2 separate regions of the Homo sapiens genome follow, and region 1 is linked to region 2. The links come from fine-mapping of genetic effects on plasma protein levels. Region 2 holds a variant in brackets. A gene starts in the other region. All regions are shown on their reverse strands.

Region 1 (7,998 bases), not on the chromosome of region 2:
TCACTGATCCTTCTCCTTTTGACCCCGCGGAGCCATACCTCTAAGCACCCCTCCGGGTCAGCTCCCGCACGCGACGGAGGGGGCGGGACGAAAGTGCCAGCGAGCCGAGGACACGTGTGCGTGCGCGCAGCGTTCGCGGGCGTCTAAATTAGAATCCGCTCGGCTCCGGGTCTGTATTTACCCAGGGTGCAGCGGGCACGTGTCTACTCAGCGTGTGTGAGCTCGAGCCACCCTGGAGCGCCCCTGAGTCCGCCTTCTGCTCGGTGGGTGGGGGCCCTGACATCCACGCGAGAACAAGGGACCGAGGGTGATGCTTTTGACTCCGCTTCCGGGCCCCAAGCTTTGACACCCCCCACCCCCAACTCCATGCGCTCATCTGGCTGGGTGACTACCAGAACATCGTCAGAATTCGAGTTTGTGATATTCCCTGTGGACCATCTGATCACCCCTTCCCGGCTGCCACCACATGGATACCTCTTCTGCGTATCCACGTCCCTCAATATGTCCGTGGGACCCTCCCCTCCCCACCATTCGTGGTCTCACTCCAGCGTGGTAAGTTATTTTGGAGATGAGTTCTCGCTCCACAGTTGTTTGGCCTCCAGGAAAGCACAGGGTCTGAAGGTGGGGCTGGGATAGGAAACTTAACATCCAATCAGAGCTGCCGCGTGGTGGCGGCGGCGCCAATCAGGAAAGCCATACCATGAACCCCACCCCGCCCCTGCCCGTGGCTCTCCCCGGCCCGCGCTGATCCCACTCGATAAGGCCAGCAGAAGGAGAGGTTTCTGTGACACCCGCTGGGGATACACAGAGTCTGGGGCTTCGGGACCCCAGGTGGGCCCTGAGTGAGGAAACCTCAGGTGCCCTCAGGGAGACAAGGAACTTGGAGAAAGTGATCGCAAAAACAACAACAACAACAAAAACAAACCAGTTCCTCCGAAGAAGGGCAGTAATGCGGACCCTTAGGTCACAGGACAGAGGCTGGTTAAGGAAGCCTTTATTGATTCCAGAGGGTTCCCCCGCCAATATTTATTTTTATTTTTATTTTATTTTTGGAGACAGGGTCGTGCTCTGTCCCCCAGGCTGGAGTGCAGTGGCACGATCAAGGCTCACTGCAACCTCGACTTTCAGGGCTCAAAGGATCCTCCCAACTCAGCCTCCCGGGTAGCTGGGACCACAGGTGCGGGCCACCACACCAGGCTAATTTGTGTATTTTTTGCATAGACGGGGTCTCACTATGTTGTCCAGGCTGGTCTCGAACTCCTGGGCTCAAGCGATTCTCCTGCCTCGGCCTCCCAAAGTGCTGGGATTACAGGCGTCAGCCACCATGTATGGCCATTTCCCCAGATTGTTTCATATTCCTCTTTTTCTCGCTCAGCCGGCATAGAACATCCCCCTTTACGCCTGGGACTTCATAGCTAGGCACTTGCATAGGTACGCAGCGCCCACAGTGAGGAGGATCCCTACAAGGGCAGCGATGGAACCGGAGGCCAAAGCTGTGGGCGCGGGGCTCCAAGCTGGGAGCAGAAGGCGAGAATTAGGAACGGAACACAGGGAGGTCTGTCGACCCGCGTGGAGCTCACGCTTGGTCTGTGCGCCCTCTCGGGGTCATAACTCTCTCTGCCCCCTTCCTCCTAGTCCCCAGGGTTACAGGGGTGCCTCACCGAGCATCAGTGTAATGGGTGCCGAGCTGTTGCGGACCACCAGGCCGTCGAGATTGAGGCGCGCGTGGCAGATCACGGGCTGCCAGAAGTCGCGGGGTCCAGCAGCAAACTCGTAGGTCAAGGTCACGTTGGCCAGATCCAGGCCGGTGAAGCGCTCCAGGCTTTCGGAATAGATGACCCGGCTTCCATGCCTCAGGGTCACCACCAAGTAGCCCACCGGGAACACCTGCGTCACGTGGCAGCGCAAAGTGTATTTCCTGCCCTTTAAGACCGGAGGCTCCAAAATCACGCTGTGGGGCGGTTCTAAGGCAAGGGGGAGCCTCTGAGTGAGGTCCGCGGGCGCTCCCTATAGAGCGACTGTCAACTACCCTTCCCCCACCTCTTCCAGCCCCCTCCCCTCACCCCAGCCGGGACCGAGCCCCTGTCCCTCACTGTAGGCGGTGATCCTGGAGGTGGCCCAGCGTGTTTTTCCTGCGCAGGTCACGAGGCAGTGCGCGAGGGAGCTCCAGGCCCTCACGTCGAGCAGCTGGTAAGACACCCAACCCGGCCCTCTGAGCGTCTTGCCTTGCCGCAGCGGGGTGCGGAGGCTGGAATTCTGCGGCTGGGGACAGCTGTTGCTGCAATTGAGCTGCACTGACTTCCCCGGCTGCACAGCCACGAACTCCGGGCTCATGCGCACCCAGAAGGGCACTGAGGTCCCGGAGGGCGCGAGAGGGCTACCCTTGGGGCTTTGCGCCCGCTTAGTCCGGCGTCCCAGCGCGCTCCCAACTCCCGGGTAGGCGGCCGCCAAAAAAAACAGCAGCGACAGAGGGAACAGAGACCCCATGGCAAAAAGCCCGGACTAAGGGGCCCCGCGCCAGAGAGCCAGGGCCGGCTCTAGAGATAAGGAGGCCCGCAGCCCCGCCTCCTCGACTCCACCCTGGAGAGGAAGGGGAGGCCCCAACAGAGGGCCCGGGAGTACTGCAAAAAGGGATTCCGCTCCCCAGGTCAAGAATAAGATTCCAGGCCTCATTAGAAACCAAATGTTTTTTTCTGGAGAGGAGTCTTTAGTTTTCACTAGAGACCCAGAAGGTCATAGAAAGTCCGATTTGGACCAGAACCTCAGGGTATGGCCATCAACCCACAATGTTTTCTTGGGGGAGGAAGTGGGAGGATCAGGCTGTGGCTGCTTAGAAAGGACTCCAGCTGGATGTGACACCTCCCCTCAACTCACACAAGGCTGAGGCAGTTGAGAAAGCTTTATTAACTAACACAAAGGAAGTCTGGGCAATGTTGCGAGACCCCGTCTCTGGAAAAAAAAAAAAAATCAAATTTGCCAGGTGTGGTGTTGTGAGCCTATGGTCCCAGCTACTCAGGAGGCTGAGGTGGGAGGATCACTTGAGCCCAAAAGGTCAAGACTGCAGTGAACCATGATTGCACCACTGCACTCCAGCCTGGGTGACAGAGCGAGAGCTTGTCTACACATACACACACACACACACGCGGATGAGGCTTCCAAAGCTGGGAGGGAGTCCTCCAATACCTTGGCCCCCTTCCCCACTGCTTGCAGGACCCTGATCACTGCAGGAAACTGGAGCTGCATAGTGCAAGCTCCCAGTGAAATGCAAACAGGACAAGAGGACAAGGCATAGCTTGGGCATATTCCCTGGGCACTCATGTCCAGACATGACCGCTGAGTGTCATTGTGAACACTGGCAGAAATGTATGTGGGTGGGGAGGTGGCTAACAAAGGTGTCAGTTTTGGGGGGAAGGGAGGAATAAGGCCTCACTGGGTAATCTCTGAACCTGTAACCATTACCAGTCCATATAGTGCTTTTGTGCCGATAGAAAAATCACTCCTTCTGGGGAAAGGCAGGTTGGCCAATGAGAAGTCCCAGCCCCATTTGATCTTTTTGCCAGGCACTCTCCTGCAGTGTACAACCTGTACAACTGTACCTGGTGACCTTGAATGTGATTAGGACTGGGAGCTCCGTGAGGCCAGAGACCTATGTTCATTTAGCCTACATAAAAGACACTCAATAAATAGCTGGTAAAATAACAAATGAATAAATACATATCATCAAGGGTTGGGGTCAGTAGACAGCAGTGCCCAAGCTGGCATCCGTCAGGAAGTGTGGGCCTTTGTGTTTTGATGCTACACATGTCTATGGAGGGCCACTTCTTCTGTAAGTCTGTGGGGCCTCAGCATACCCAATAGGCAGCAAGTTTCAGTATTTCCCAGTTGTATGTCCTCATGGTGGGGCTATGTCTCCCCCACCACTTCCCCTCTCATCAGGCTAGACTTTAACATCCATCAATCATGTCTTGAGTCTTGCTCCTTCCTCTTGGCTTAGTCATGTGACTACAGATCAGATGCGTGGCCTAGTGTTTTAGGTGTGCAGGTACCATGGCCCCAAATGCTGTTGTATCTGACTGAGGACAATGCCCTGTCCTCCGGCGTCCCAGGGCCGGTAGGTGTAGCTGCATGGCATATGTCTTCCACTCTGTTCAGTGTGGCACCACTGCCACCAATATGGGAAGGCCGAGGAAGAGGCCCTGTCCCGGGATAGGTTCAGGGAGGCGTGGCTTGTGTGTTCGGTTTCATGGGGGTCCCTTTTTGGGCCTGTTGTAGTCTGTATTTCTTGATCTTCCGCTGGCGGTTATAGAGGTACGTGCTGAGGCCTGCAGTGCCCATTATGACTGCGGCTGCTACCACAGTGATGATGACAATCTCATACCGGGGGGCTGTGGGGAGGATACAACAGGCGGTGAGGATTGCATTAGGTCCATGGCCCCTGCCCCCACCCAGCTCTGCCCGCCGGCTCACTCACAGAGCACATTCACGGTCACCTTGCGGGTGACCTCCCCTTGAGTGCTCCTGGCCCGACAGAGGTAGGTGCCCTCAAGATCTCGAGTGACAGTCACTGATTCCCCGATGGGCAGTGGGAAAGTGCCATCCTTTAGACACTTGAGCTCGGGCAATGGGTTCCCCCAAGCCTGGCACATTGGAGTCTGCTGGGAATTTTCTGGCCACGTCCAGTTTCCCGGACAATCCCTCTCGTCCAGTCGGGGGCCATCTGGAAAAACACGATGAGATGACATGGAGGTGGGTGGGGGCAGGACTTGGAGGCAAGACCTTATGGGACCTTCAGGGAGATTGGGCCTTGGGGGATAGGGGCCATTGACCAGCAGCCCCACTCACACAGGACACGAAGCTCCCGGGTCTGGTTCTTGTGTATAAGCTGGCCGGCCACCTCCAGGGTTGCAGAGCAGGAGAAGCTGCGCCCGTTGTCCTCTGGGGTGGCCTTCAGCAGGAGCTGGGCCCTCGGGCCCAGTGGCTGGGCTGGAACCCCATTCAGCGTCACCTTGGCTCTAGGGTGGGCCTCACACTTCACTGTCACCTCGGTCCCTTCTGAGACCTCTGGCTTCGTCAGAATCACGTTGGGCGCCGGAAAGCCTGGAATAGGCACACAGTGAGCCCCGCCCCGGGTTCAGGTCACACCCCCAAGAAGCCCCACTCCGCCCCTGCCCCTTCTTACTGTAGATGGTCACTGTCTGCAGTGTCTCCTGGCTCTGGTTCCCCAGTATTACTGCACACGTCAGCCGCTGGGTGCCCTCGTCCTCTGCGGTCACACTGACTGAGGCCTTGGCCGAGAAGGAGTCGTTGCCATAGGTGACTGTGGGGTTCAACCTCTGGTCCCCCAGTGCCAGGTGGACCTGGGCCTCCGAGACTGGGAACAGCCCGTCCAGGGAACAGACCACGGTCCCCTGCGTGTCCACCTCTAGGACCCGGGGGCTGACAAGTTGTGGGGGAGTCGCTGGCAGGACTAGGGAGAGAAGAAAGGTGTGAGCAGACAGGGATGGACGTCCCGAAGCCCTTCTCTGGGGCATTTCATTCCCCCTCCTGCGAGATCCTCTTCCAGGGCCACTCAGCAGCCTAGGTCACATACGCCTAGAACACATGCACCCCTTAGCCGGGGCCACACCCATCTCAAAAGATCCTGTGGCCACAGGCACCGCATTGCAGGATACCCCACCCCCACCTTCTCCCTGCTGGCTTCTTCAATCCTCACCAAAGGTCTGGAGCTGGTAGGGGGCCGAGGTGTTCTCAAACAGCTCCAGCCCTTGGGGCCGCAGGTCCAGTTCAGTGCGGCACGAGAAATTGGCTCCATGGTGATCTCTCCTCACCAGCACCGTGGTCGTGACCTCAGCGGGCTCCCCCACAGCTGGCTCCCGTTTCAGCTCCTTCTCCCCACGGAGCAGCACCACGGTGAGGTTGGCCCGGGGTGCCCCACCCTCCACCTGGCAGCGTAGGGTAAGGTTCTTGCCCACTGGCTGCCAAGAGGGGAGGGGTGCCAGTTCCACCCGTTCTGGAGTCCCTGCAGGAAAACAGAGGTGGGGGTGTCTGGTGAAGTGGACCTTGCTGCCTGCCTAACAGACGAACTGCACCTGCCTGGGAGCCCTACCTCTTCAGTATCTCCCCCAAACACGCCCAGACACCTAAGCAGATAGGAATGTCAAGATCTTCAGTGAAAACTGGTAAGAGGGCCCCGAGTGTTTGTGAAGGGGATCAAAATATTCCTTATTCATGACAGCAGCATCTTAGAGTGAAAAGTGGAAAAGAACTTCAAAGTCTATTGCTAGGTGTCTGGTCAAATAAATTCAGCAGCCCAGTGCACTAGACTGGGCAAACAGTGGCTCGATCTTGGCTCACTGCAACCTCTGCCTCTGGGATTCAGGGGATTCTCCTGCCTCAGCCTCCTGAGTAGCTTAGATTACAGGCACACACCACCACACCAGGTTAATTTTTGTATTTTTATTTTTAATTAATTAATTAATTAAGTTTTTAGACTGAGTCTCCTTCTGTCGCCCAGGCTGGAGGGTGATGGCATGATCTTGGCTCACTGCAACCTCTGCCTCCTGGGTTCAAGCAATTCTCCTGCCTCAACCTCCTGAGTAGCTGGGATTACAGGCACGTGTCACCACACCCAGCTAATTTTTGTATTTTTAGTAGAAACGGGGTTTCAGCATGTTGCCCAGGCTGGTCTCGAATTCCTGACCTCAAGTGATCTGCCCACCCCGGCCTCCCAAAGTGCTGGGATTACAGGTGAAAGTAAATGAGCCTGGCCTAGACATTCTTTAAAAAACAAAACAAAACAAAAAAAAAAACCTGTTGGCCAGGTGTGATGGCTCAGGCTGTAATCCTAGCACTTTGTGAGGCCAAGGCAAGAGGGTCACTTGAGGCCAGGAGTTCAAGACAAGCCTGGGCAACATAGGGAGACCCCCATCTCTAAGAAAAATTAAAAAAAGGTTGGCAGGGCGCGGTGGCTCACGCCTTTAATCCCAGCACTTTGGGAGGCCAAGGAGGGTGGATCCACGAAGTCAGGAGTTCGAGATAAGCCTGACCAACAGAGTGAAACCCCGTCTCTATTAAAAATACAAAAATTAGTCTGGCATGGTGGTGCACGCCTGTAGTCTCAGCTACTCGGGAGGCTGAGGCAGGAGAATCTCTTGAACCTGGGAGGTGGAGGTTGCAGTGAGCTGAGATCGTGCCACTGCACTCCAGCCTAGGTGACAGAGCGAGACTCCATCTCAAAATAAATGAATGAATGAATGAATGAATGGTTAACTGGGTGTGGTGGTGCACACCTGTAGTCCCTGCTACTTGGGAGGCTGAGGCAGGAGGATCACTTGAGCCCAGGAGTTTAAGGCTATAGTGAACTGTGATCATGCCACTGTACTTTAGCCTGGGAAAGAAAGACCCTGTTTCTATTAAAAAAAAAAAAAAGTCAGTAATGACAGAGTCTAATAACAAAAAGGCTGCGTGTGGTGGCTCACGCCTGTAATCCCAACACTTTGGGGGGCCGAGGCAGGCGGATCACCTGAGGTCAGGAGTTCAAGACCAGCCTGGCCAATATAGTGAAACCCCGTCTCTACCTAAAAATACAAAAATTAGCCAGGCGTGGTGTTGTGTGCCTGTAGTCCCAGCTACTTGAGAGGCTGAGGTTTACTTGTGAGGAAAGGATTACTTCAGCCCAGGAGGCAGAGATTGCAGTGAACTGAGATCGCGCCACTGTACTCTAGACTGAGTGACAGAGTGAGAGTCTCTCTCAGAGGAAAAAAAAAAAAAAAAAAAAAGCATCAGGACCGGGGGGGTCCTGCATTTGATACCCAGCCTTGCTTCTTTGCTGTGGGTAAGTGACTTTGTCTCTCTGAACCTCAGTTTCCTGAACTGTAAAATAGGGCTATTAAAGGTAGGAGAATTCACTTAAGAGGTAGACAGAGTCGCTGTACATAAGCAGGAGGTTTCTTTTTTAGAGTGATTGAAATATTTTAAAATTAGATTGTAGTCATGGTT
Region 2 (8,524 bases):
AACAAATATACATATAAAAAACAGATTTTATAGCAGCAAAAGAACAACTAACTTATAATATCATGTGAAATGCAAACGGGGGATAAAAATTATGATAATAACTAAAAACATAAGAAAAAAGGAAATAAACCAAAATATTGAAGAGTGGTGAAATTATTATTACTTCTTTTTCTTTTTTTCTTTTCTTTTCTCTTTTTTTGAGACAGCGTCTCACTTTGTCACCCAGGCTGGAGTACAGTGGCACAATCACAGCTCACTGCAATCTCTGCCTCCCGGGCTCAGGTGATCCTCTCACGTCAGTCTCCCGAGTAGCTGGGACCACACATGCACGTCACCATAGTCGGCTAAATATTTATTATTTGTAGAGATGGTGTCTCCCTATGTTGTCCAAGCTGGTCTCAAAATCCTGGCCTCATGCAGTACTCCCTCCTTGGCCTCCTGAAGTGCTGGGATTACACTGCACCCACCCTTTTTTATTTTCTACAATTTTGGTAACATGATTTTAATAATAAATTACACATGGCTAGGCCTAGTGGTTCACACCTGTAATCCCAGCACTTTGGGAAGCTGAGGCAGGCAGATCACTTGAGCCCAGGAGTTTGAGACCAGCCTGGGCAACATGGTGAAGCCCCATCTCTACAAAAAATACAAAACTAGCAGGGCGTGGTGGCATGCGCCCGTCATCTCAGCTACTCAGGAGGCTGAGTGGGAGGATTGCTTGAGCCTGGGAGGTGGAGGTTGCAGTAAGCTGAGATTGTGCCACTGCATTCCAGCCTGGGTGACAGAGCAGACCCTGTCTCAAAAAATAAAAAAAATAATTAAAATAAAATTAAAAATACAAATATTTGGAAATATCTATTACTCCCATCTATGAGATTAAATGATTTTAATAAAAATTTAGGAAACATTATTTTAATCTACAAGTTACATTTTATTCAAATAAGTGTTAAAATATGAGCAGAATATATATAACCTGGTCCAGTTTTTATAAATCATTAATACTGTATTTTTACTATGACACCCATAGCAATTTTACCTGGACCATTAAATGGGTTTTCTGTTTTTCTAGGGTCCCTCAAGGTGAAATTTCTCCCAGGGTCTAACAGTATACCTTTTCCTGAGCTTGCCTTAAAGTGGCCTTATATAGCAGATGTATATTAAATGTTAGTTTACTTTTCTGTCTGAAAGGAGGTGACATCATATTACCAGGGAGGCTTAACTGAATAAATCTCAATTCTGGGATGTTAGAGCTTTGCACAGATATTCTGAAAGTCAGAACTTGTTAGGCCAGGCTTGAGGCCAGGAGTTCAAGGCCAGCCTTAGCAACATAGCAAGATCCATCTCTATAAAAAATTTAAAAATTAGCTGGGTGTGGTTGTGTGTGCTTGTGGCCCTAGCTACCTGGGAAGCTGAGGTGTGAGGATGGCTTGAGCCCAGGAGGTTGAGGCTGCAGTGGGCCATGATCATGCCATTGCACTCCAGCCTGGGTGATAGTGAGACTCTTGTCTCTAAAAAAGAAACAAAGCTTGCTAACTAGCTAGATAACATATGTTCTGCTTTTGAGATTTTTGGAAGCCAAAGAAAAGCAGTGTTTAGAGCTGTCTCATCCCTTCCAGGCTCTGGATAAGAAGAAAAATGACTGAAGAAAGGAATACTAAAAATATATAAGACAAAGAAAACCAAACACTGTCGGTGGAGGGTGGGGGGTCCCGGATATAAATGCATCGCTAGTAGTTGGCCCAACTATAGGAAAAAAATTTTATTCTAAAATAACCAACTTTAATGCAAAATTCCAGTATTCCACTGAAGTAAATTGTAACCTATGTTTTCTCTTACCTTTAGCAACATAACCTCCAAAAAGAATCCACATAGATGCAATCAGAGATCCAAAGGCCAACATGAAACCAACGAAAAGCCAAATGCGAGCACCTTCAAAGAAATAATATTTTACCAGAATTCTTTCTTATAGGGCAGTACAATTAACTTTCAAAAAGAAAATAAAACCCAAACAGAAAAAAAAAAAGTGCAACTGCCATTAAAGTCTAACGTGAGAACAGTAAAGGATGTGTTAAACATCTTCATCAGTGTACCTGTTGGCCTTTTTCTTCTTGGTTGGTCTGTATAGATTTTTAAAAATTATTTATGAGTCTGTATAAGTGCATATACTTACTTTCCCCAACTGCCTACACTGAGAAAACCTATACTCAACCTTCCTATAAAACATCTCATAAAATCTGTTTCACCATATTTAGAGGCTCATTCTCCTTATGCTTTTATATAGACAATGATCCCACATTTTTTTTTTTTTTTTTTTTGAGGCAGAGTCTTGCTCTGTCTCCTAGGCTGGAGTGCAGTGGCGCAATCTCGGCTCACTGCAAGCTCCACCCGCCCAGGTTCATGCCATTCCCCTGCCTCAGCCTCCAGAGTAGCTGGGACTACAGGCACCCGCCACCACGCCCAGCTGATTTTTTGTATTTTTAGTAGAGACGGGGTTTCACTGTGTTAGCCAGGATGATCTCGATCTCCTGACCTTGTGATCTGCCTGCCTTGGCCTCTCAAAGTGCTGGGATTACAGCCGTGAGCCACTGTGCCCGGCCGCTCCCAGATCTTCCAAGAGTACTTTCAAACAGTAACACAGACATACAGTAAAAAATTCATATTCAGTGACATACGAATCTCCAAGCTACCATATTTCACTTTCAGGGAAGTTAGGCAGCAAAATAAATTCAAATTTACTGTGACTAGAACTTAGGAAGGTTGCATTAAAATTATGTTAACAGAGGAGGACAGGCAACTTTCAAATCACATTAACATGTTTATGAAGATTTGCTATAAATAAATGGAGTCATGACTGCCTAAAATGAATTCTGATAGGGCCTCTTTAATTTGCATAAATACATTTTAATAAAAACACTGCCTACACTCAATAAAGCACGGCAAATAGAATGTTATATATTAATTCCCAATTTCAAGCCCAAAACATAAAACAATAGATTCAAAATAATAAGCTGTTACTCACAGATATATTAAAACAAATAGAAAAGTGGTATTTCCATGTGAAATACTCATCTTAAGGATTTAAGCATGTATAATAAGATGCTGTTTGCACCTATTTACCTGTTTGACCCAGACAACCTTCACTGTAACTATCACCTCGGACTTGTCCATTCGATACTGCATTAATCCTGTATGAATAAAATAAAACCAAGAAATCAGGGTCCATGACACCAATTACCAGAAACAATAATCTACAGTTTCTCAAATGTAAGGTTAGGCCTGAAAGTCTTTTTTTTTTTTTTAAAGATACAGGGTCTCACTCTGTTGCTCAAGCTAGAATGCAGTGGCACAACCATGGCTTACTGCAGCCTTGAAATCCCAGGCTCAAGTGATCCTCCCACTTCAGCCTCCTGAGTAGCTGGGATTACAGGTGTGCACCACCACACCCAGCTAATTTTTAAAAATTTTTGTAGAGACAAAGTCTTGCTATGTTGCTCAGGCTGGTCTCAAACTCCTGGCCTCAAGAGATCCTCCTTGCCTTGACCTCCCAAAGTGCCACTACACCTGGCTCATAAGCCTTCAGTTCTTGAGTAAAGAGTTCATATGACTGGTCTCTTCAACCAGATACTCCTTTTTTTTTTTTTTTTTTGAGACGGAGTCTCGCTCTGTCTCCCAGGCTATAGTGTAGTGGCACGATCT[C/T]GGCTCACTGCAACCTCTGCCTCCCAGGTTTTACGCCATTCTCCTGCCTCAGCCTCCCGAGTAGTTGGGACTACAGGCATGCACCACCTATGCCCGGCTAATTTTTTTTGTATTTTTAGTAGAGATGGGGTTTCACCGTGTTAGCCAGGATGGTCTCGAACTCCTGACCTTGTGATCCGCCCGCCTCGGCCTCCCAAAGTGCTGGGATTACAGGTGTGAGCCACTGCGCCCAGCCAGATACTCTCTAGAGCAGTGGTCATGGGCCCCAGGCTAGCGGAATCAGCATTACTTGGCAACCTATTTGACAAGAAAATTCTCTTGGCCCTAACCCAAACCTAGCAAAGCAGACACTCTGGGCATGGGGCCCAGAAATCTGAGTTTTAACAAGTCTTTCAGGTGAGTCTCGATTGTTAAAATTTGGGAACGAGGCTGGGCGTGGTGGTTCATGCCTATAATCCCAGCACTTTGGGAGGCCAAGGTGGGCGGATCACCTGAGGTGAGGAGTTCAAGACCAGCCTGACCAACACAGAGAAACCCCGTCTCTACTAAAAATACAAAATTAGCTGGGCATGGTGGCACATGCCTGTAATCCTAGCTACTTGGGAGGCTGAGGCAGGAGAATTGCTTGAACCCGGGAAACAGGTTGTGGTGAGCTCAGATCGTGCCACTGCGATTCAGCCTGGGCGACAAGAGTGAAACTCCGTCTCTTAAAAAAAAAATCGGGAACAAAATTCTCAAAATTTTCTTTTGCTAAGATTGGAACAGGTAAAAAGATAATTTTGCTTGGTTCTATCTGATATTCCATTTGTATGTATCAGACATAACATGTACTCATGTATGGCAATGGCAGAGGGAGAAAATGGGCCCTGGATAATCCAAATATTTCTTAAAATTGGCTTTGGAATAAATTTTTTTGTAGTAATTTTGTACTGATATCAAATGTTTGGAGAAATAATTATATTTCAAACAATACAATAACTTTTTGCTCTGAAGATATTATCGAATAGAGATTCAAGTGGTAAAATCTTGTTTTTTAAATCCTTGATACAGGCTCTAAACATAAGGTGTTTTACTAACTCTTCATAGCATACCACTCTAAATTGAGATAGGCTTGCTTTCTTTAGAAGTATCCTTTGAAACATTCCAAATGTCATGGGAAAACGTTCACAATACATCAAGTTAAAGTTACAAAACATTATACCTATGATATATATACCCATTTAGTTGTGTGTGTCTAACACTAGAATATAAGCTTCATGAGGACAGGAGCCATTGTCTGTCTTGTTTCTCATTTTCATTCTCAATGCCTAGCACAAGGCTAGGGGCTTCGCACATAGTAGGTGCTCAATAAATGTGTTTAGGTCAGGCCTGGTAGCTTGTGCCAGTAATCTCAGCACTTTGGAAGGCCAAGGTAGGAGGATTGCTTAAGCCCGGGACTTTGAGACCAGCCTGGGCAACATAGTAAGACCTTGTATCTATGAAAAAAAAAAGTGAATATAGGAATCCTAGTTTTTTTCACAGTAATATGATGTCTTAATTTATTCATACAAATCTAAGTTTCAGAATGATCAAAATACTCAATTATTTTCAGTGATCTCTGTACAGTACTAAATTATTTTGTATATAAAATAGATACATTAAAAACAGGTTTCATATATAAAAGTAAAACACAAATAAATGTTCTTGGGTTACTGGTTCTCAGCTCGTTTTCCTTGCTGAGCCATCTGAATAAACTTCAGAGCCCTCTGTGAGCCACCACAATCCTGTCTTCACTATTAGGGACACTTTGGAATGAACAATCTCTATTTGTTCTCTGCTATGATTATTTTTATGTATGTTCTCCAATTTATAGAAAAGTTACTAGTTAAATAATCTTTTTACTGAAACGTCTGGTATTTGTCAACATGATGCTCCATAACTGGGGGCTATAGGTGTGCTCCTGGTGTTGGGGTGTAGCTGTTCTGGGCACTCTTAGCGGACAGAGCTGCCACACTGCTTCTCCTGCCCCATCTGGACAGCCTCTTCACCCTGCTCAGACTCCAGCATCCCATGTAGGGCTGCCTTCTTCCATCCCACGCTCCGCTGCATGGATCCCCTCCTCACCCTGCTCAGGATCTGAGCCCATGCTGAGCTGCCCCTTCCCACCCTGCCTGAGCCCAGCAGCCTGCTCTGGGCCACCACAACTTGTCTTTCTATAGAGGATGCCTCTCATGCTTGACCTCACCTAATAGTTTTTGGACTGAATTTTTCCAGGAAGAGGAAAGGAAGTGGAGAAGAGTTAAATATTACTTTTAAAACATATAGATGTGTGTTAGAGAAAGAGAAAACAGAAGAGAACACTGGTAGAATATCTGTCAAAATGTTATAGTTTGGTGAGATTATAGGCAACTTCGTTTTTGCTTATTGGCATATCCTACTTTTTTTTTTTTTTGAGATGGAGTCTTGCTCTATCGCCAGGCTGGAGTGCAGTGGCACAATCTCAGCTCACTGCAACCTCCACCTCCCGGGTTCAAGCGATTCCCCTGCCTCAGCCTCCTGAGTAGCTAGGACCACAGGCGCGTGTCACCACACCCAGCTAATTTTTTGTATTTTAGTAGAGACGGGGCTTCATCATGTTGGCCAGGATGGTCTCGATCTCCTGACCTCGAGATCCTTCCACCTCGGCCTCCCAAAGTGCTGGGATTACAGGCGTGAGCCACCGTGCCCGGCCTACCCTACATTTTTAAAATTAAAAAATACAGAGTAATACACAGAACATTTATTAATATTTTTAAAGCCACAAAATCAGAGAACTTTTGTAATAAGAGAAAAAATAATAAAGTCATTAATGAAAGAATAGCTGCTTTTTGACTCCTATCCATTTGAATTATAATTAACTAACAGTTTTTGTTTAAAATTATGGCCTGACACTATCTGACACTATAATAAAAAGATGTAAACTGAAGCCAAATAGATGATAAACATTTATAAAGACATGAAGTCAGCTCTGCTATAATTATGTTAATGCAACAGAATGTAAGTTTAGCAGGAAACACGTTTGAATAGTACATTCAAGCTCATATACAGCTATAATTCCCCTCCATAGTCAGACTTGCTACTGCTTCAAAATGGAACAAAATAATTTTTTAAAGATCTGAGAACAAAAGCAGGACAAAAATACAATCACAAAAATAAAACTTTTAAATCTAAACCAATGTTGAAATTTAGGTGTCAGCTTTCTAAAAGAATTCTAACAGCATCATTATTACGGTAAAATAAATTGCAACAAGATGGAAAGAACTAGAAATAGCTGCATACTGGCTGAACTTCAAAGAAAAAGACCACAGCCCTTTGCTATCAGTGGCTTCTGAAGTCAGACCTTTACTTCTGCGAATGAATAACTACTCTGGCACTGACTCCATGCCAGGCACAGTCAAACTGGCTGCCCTTAGCCACTTGCTTTACTCTGAAAATACAAGTTACTGTGTTTACACTTAAGTAACTGTAGCAAAATTTAAAAATGTGTGTAATTTTCAACTTGGATTACCTGGAAGCCTGTATGAGATGACTCTACAACCTAAATTAAAAGTCTACAGAAGGCCGGGCATGGTGGCTCACGCTTGTCATCCCAGCACTTTGGGAGGCCAAGGCAGGTGGATCACCTGAGAGGTCAGGAGTTCGAGACCAGCCTGGCCAACATGGTGAAACCCTTCCTCTACTAAAAATACAAAAATTAGCTGGGCACAGTGGTGGGCGTCTGTAATCCCAGTTACTCAGGAGGCTGAGGCAGGAAAATTGCTTGAATTCAGGAGGCAGAGGTTGCAGTGAACCGAGATCATGCCACTGCACTCCAGCCTGGGCAACAGAGCAAGAGCCTATCTCAAAAGAAAAAAAAAAAGGTCTACAGAAAGCTGATGGACAATGGTAGAGGTCAGGATGGGGGCTATACAGGTGTGATGGAAGTGCTGATTGAGAATGTTCTGGGGTGATGTTTTAAATCTTGATCTAGATGCTGTTTACATGGGTGTATATATAAGAAAAATTTGTTGAGATGTATATATGACTTGTGCACTTTATGTATCTCACTAAATGCGTTTTTTGTTTGTTTGTTTGTTTTGAGACAGAGTCTCACTCTGTCTCCTGGGCTGGAATCCAGTGCCGTGATCTTGGCTCACTGTAATCTCTGCCTCTCAGATTCAAGTGATTCCCCACCTCAGCCTCCTCAGTAGCTGGGACCACAGGCATGCACCACCATGCCCGGCTGATTTTTGTATTTTTTTGTAGAGACAGGGTTTCACCATGTTGGCCAGGCTGGTCTTGAACTCCTGACCTCAAGTGATCCGCCCACTTTGGCCTCCCAAAGTGCTGGGATTACAAGTGTGAGCCACCATGCCTGGCCAGAATGCATTTTATATTACATTTTTAAAATAATAAAGGCAGAGAGCACAGTGACTCACACCTATCATGCAGCACTCTCGGAGGCCAAGGCAGGAGAATCACTTGAGACCAGGAGTTCAAGAACAGCCTGGGCAACATAGTGAGATCCTGTCTTTACAAAAAAACTGTTTAAAAAATAGCTGGGTGTGGTGGTATGTGCAAGTAGTCCTAGCTACTGGGGAGGCTGAGGCCAGAGGACTGCTTAAGCCCAGGATTTTGAGACAGTAGTGTGTTATGATCACACCATTTGCACTCCAGCCTGGGTGACAAGCGAGGCCCTACTTCTAAAACATTTTTTTTTTAATTTAAAAGGAAAACCTGATTCTTTTGTAGTTCTTAGGCACGATGATTGGGTGTTCATGTGCATGTTTGAGATGTGCCTCCCTCAAACCTTGTTCTTACATCAGCACCT

Alleles and levels. Alleles are on the strand shown, and positions count from the first base shown. The strength of an association depends on the size of the effect and on how common the allele is.
For the plasma level of the protein whose gene starts at base 2,545 in region 1, allele C in region 2 goes with a lower level than allele T (weak association).

What was found. PIP is the chance, under the fine-mapping model, that this variant and not a neighbour inherited with it causes the effect. The UK Biobank Pharma Proteomics Project read protein levels with antibody pairs (Olink). The fine-mapping took linkage between variants from a reference panel, not from the people measured, so its PIPs are less certain.
Region 1: it holds the start of ICAM4, and the variant in region 2 is fine-mapped to the plasma level of the ICAM4 protein (UK Biobank, PIP above 0.99).

The regions. Positions count from the first base shown.
Region 1 is chr19:10,281,502-10,289,499 of GRCh38, reverse strand. ICAM4 (intercellular adhesion molecule 4 (Landsteiner-Wiener blood group)) reads right to left here and starts at 2,545. Exons shown (of 3, transcript NM_001544.5): 1 at 2,094-2,545; 2 at 1,662-1,964; 3 at 980-1,514. The coding sequence starts at 2,487. The coding sequence ends at 1,396. It overlaps ICAM1 (intercellular adhesion molecule 1), which reads right to left. Exons shown (of 7, transcript NM_000201.3): 3 at 5,714-6,019; 4 at 5,180-5,467; 5 at 4,843-5,097; 6 at 4,472-4,717; 7 at 2,885-4,385. The coding sequence ends at 4,213. LIMASI (lncRNA inflammatory and mucous response associated, antisense to ICAM1) reads left to right here and starts at 6,050. Exons shown (of 4, transcript XR_007067138.1): 1 at 6,050-6,179. It overlaps ICAM4-AS1 (ICAM4 antisense RNA 1), which reads left to right and starts at 481. Exons shown (of 1, transcript NR_186335.1): 1 at 481-3,699. RefSeq lists a silencer at 624-693 and enhancers at 2,418-2,557, 1,904-2,873, 2,928-2,977.
Region 2 is chr1:25,346,287-25,354,810 of GRCh38, reverse strand. It overlaps TMEM50A (transmembrane protein 50A), which reads right to left. Exons shown (of 7, transcript NM_014313.4): 4 at 3,118-3,185; 5 at 1,837-1,929. It overlaps LOC124904823 (small nucleolar RNA U13), which reads left to right and starts at 8,434; the gene lies at 8,434-8,524. The variant C/T (reference allele first, on the strand shown) is at 3,697.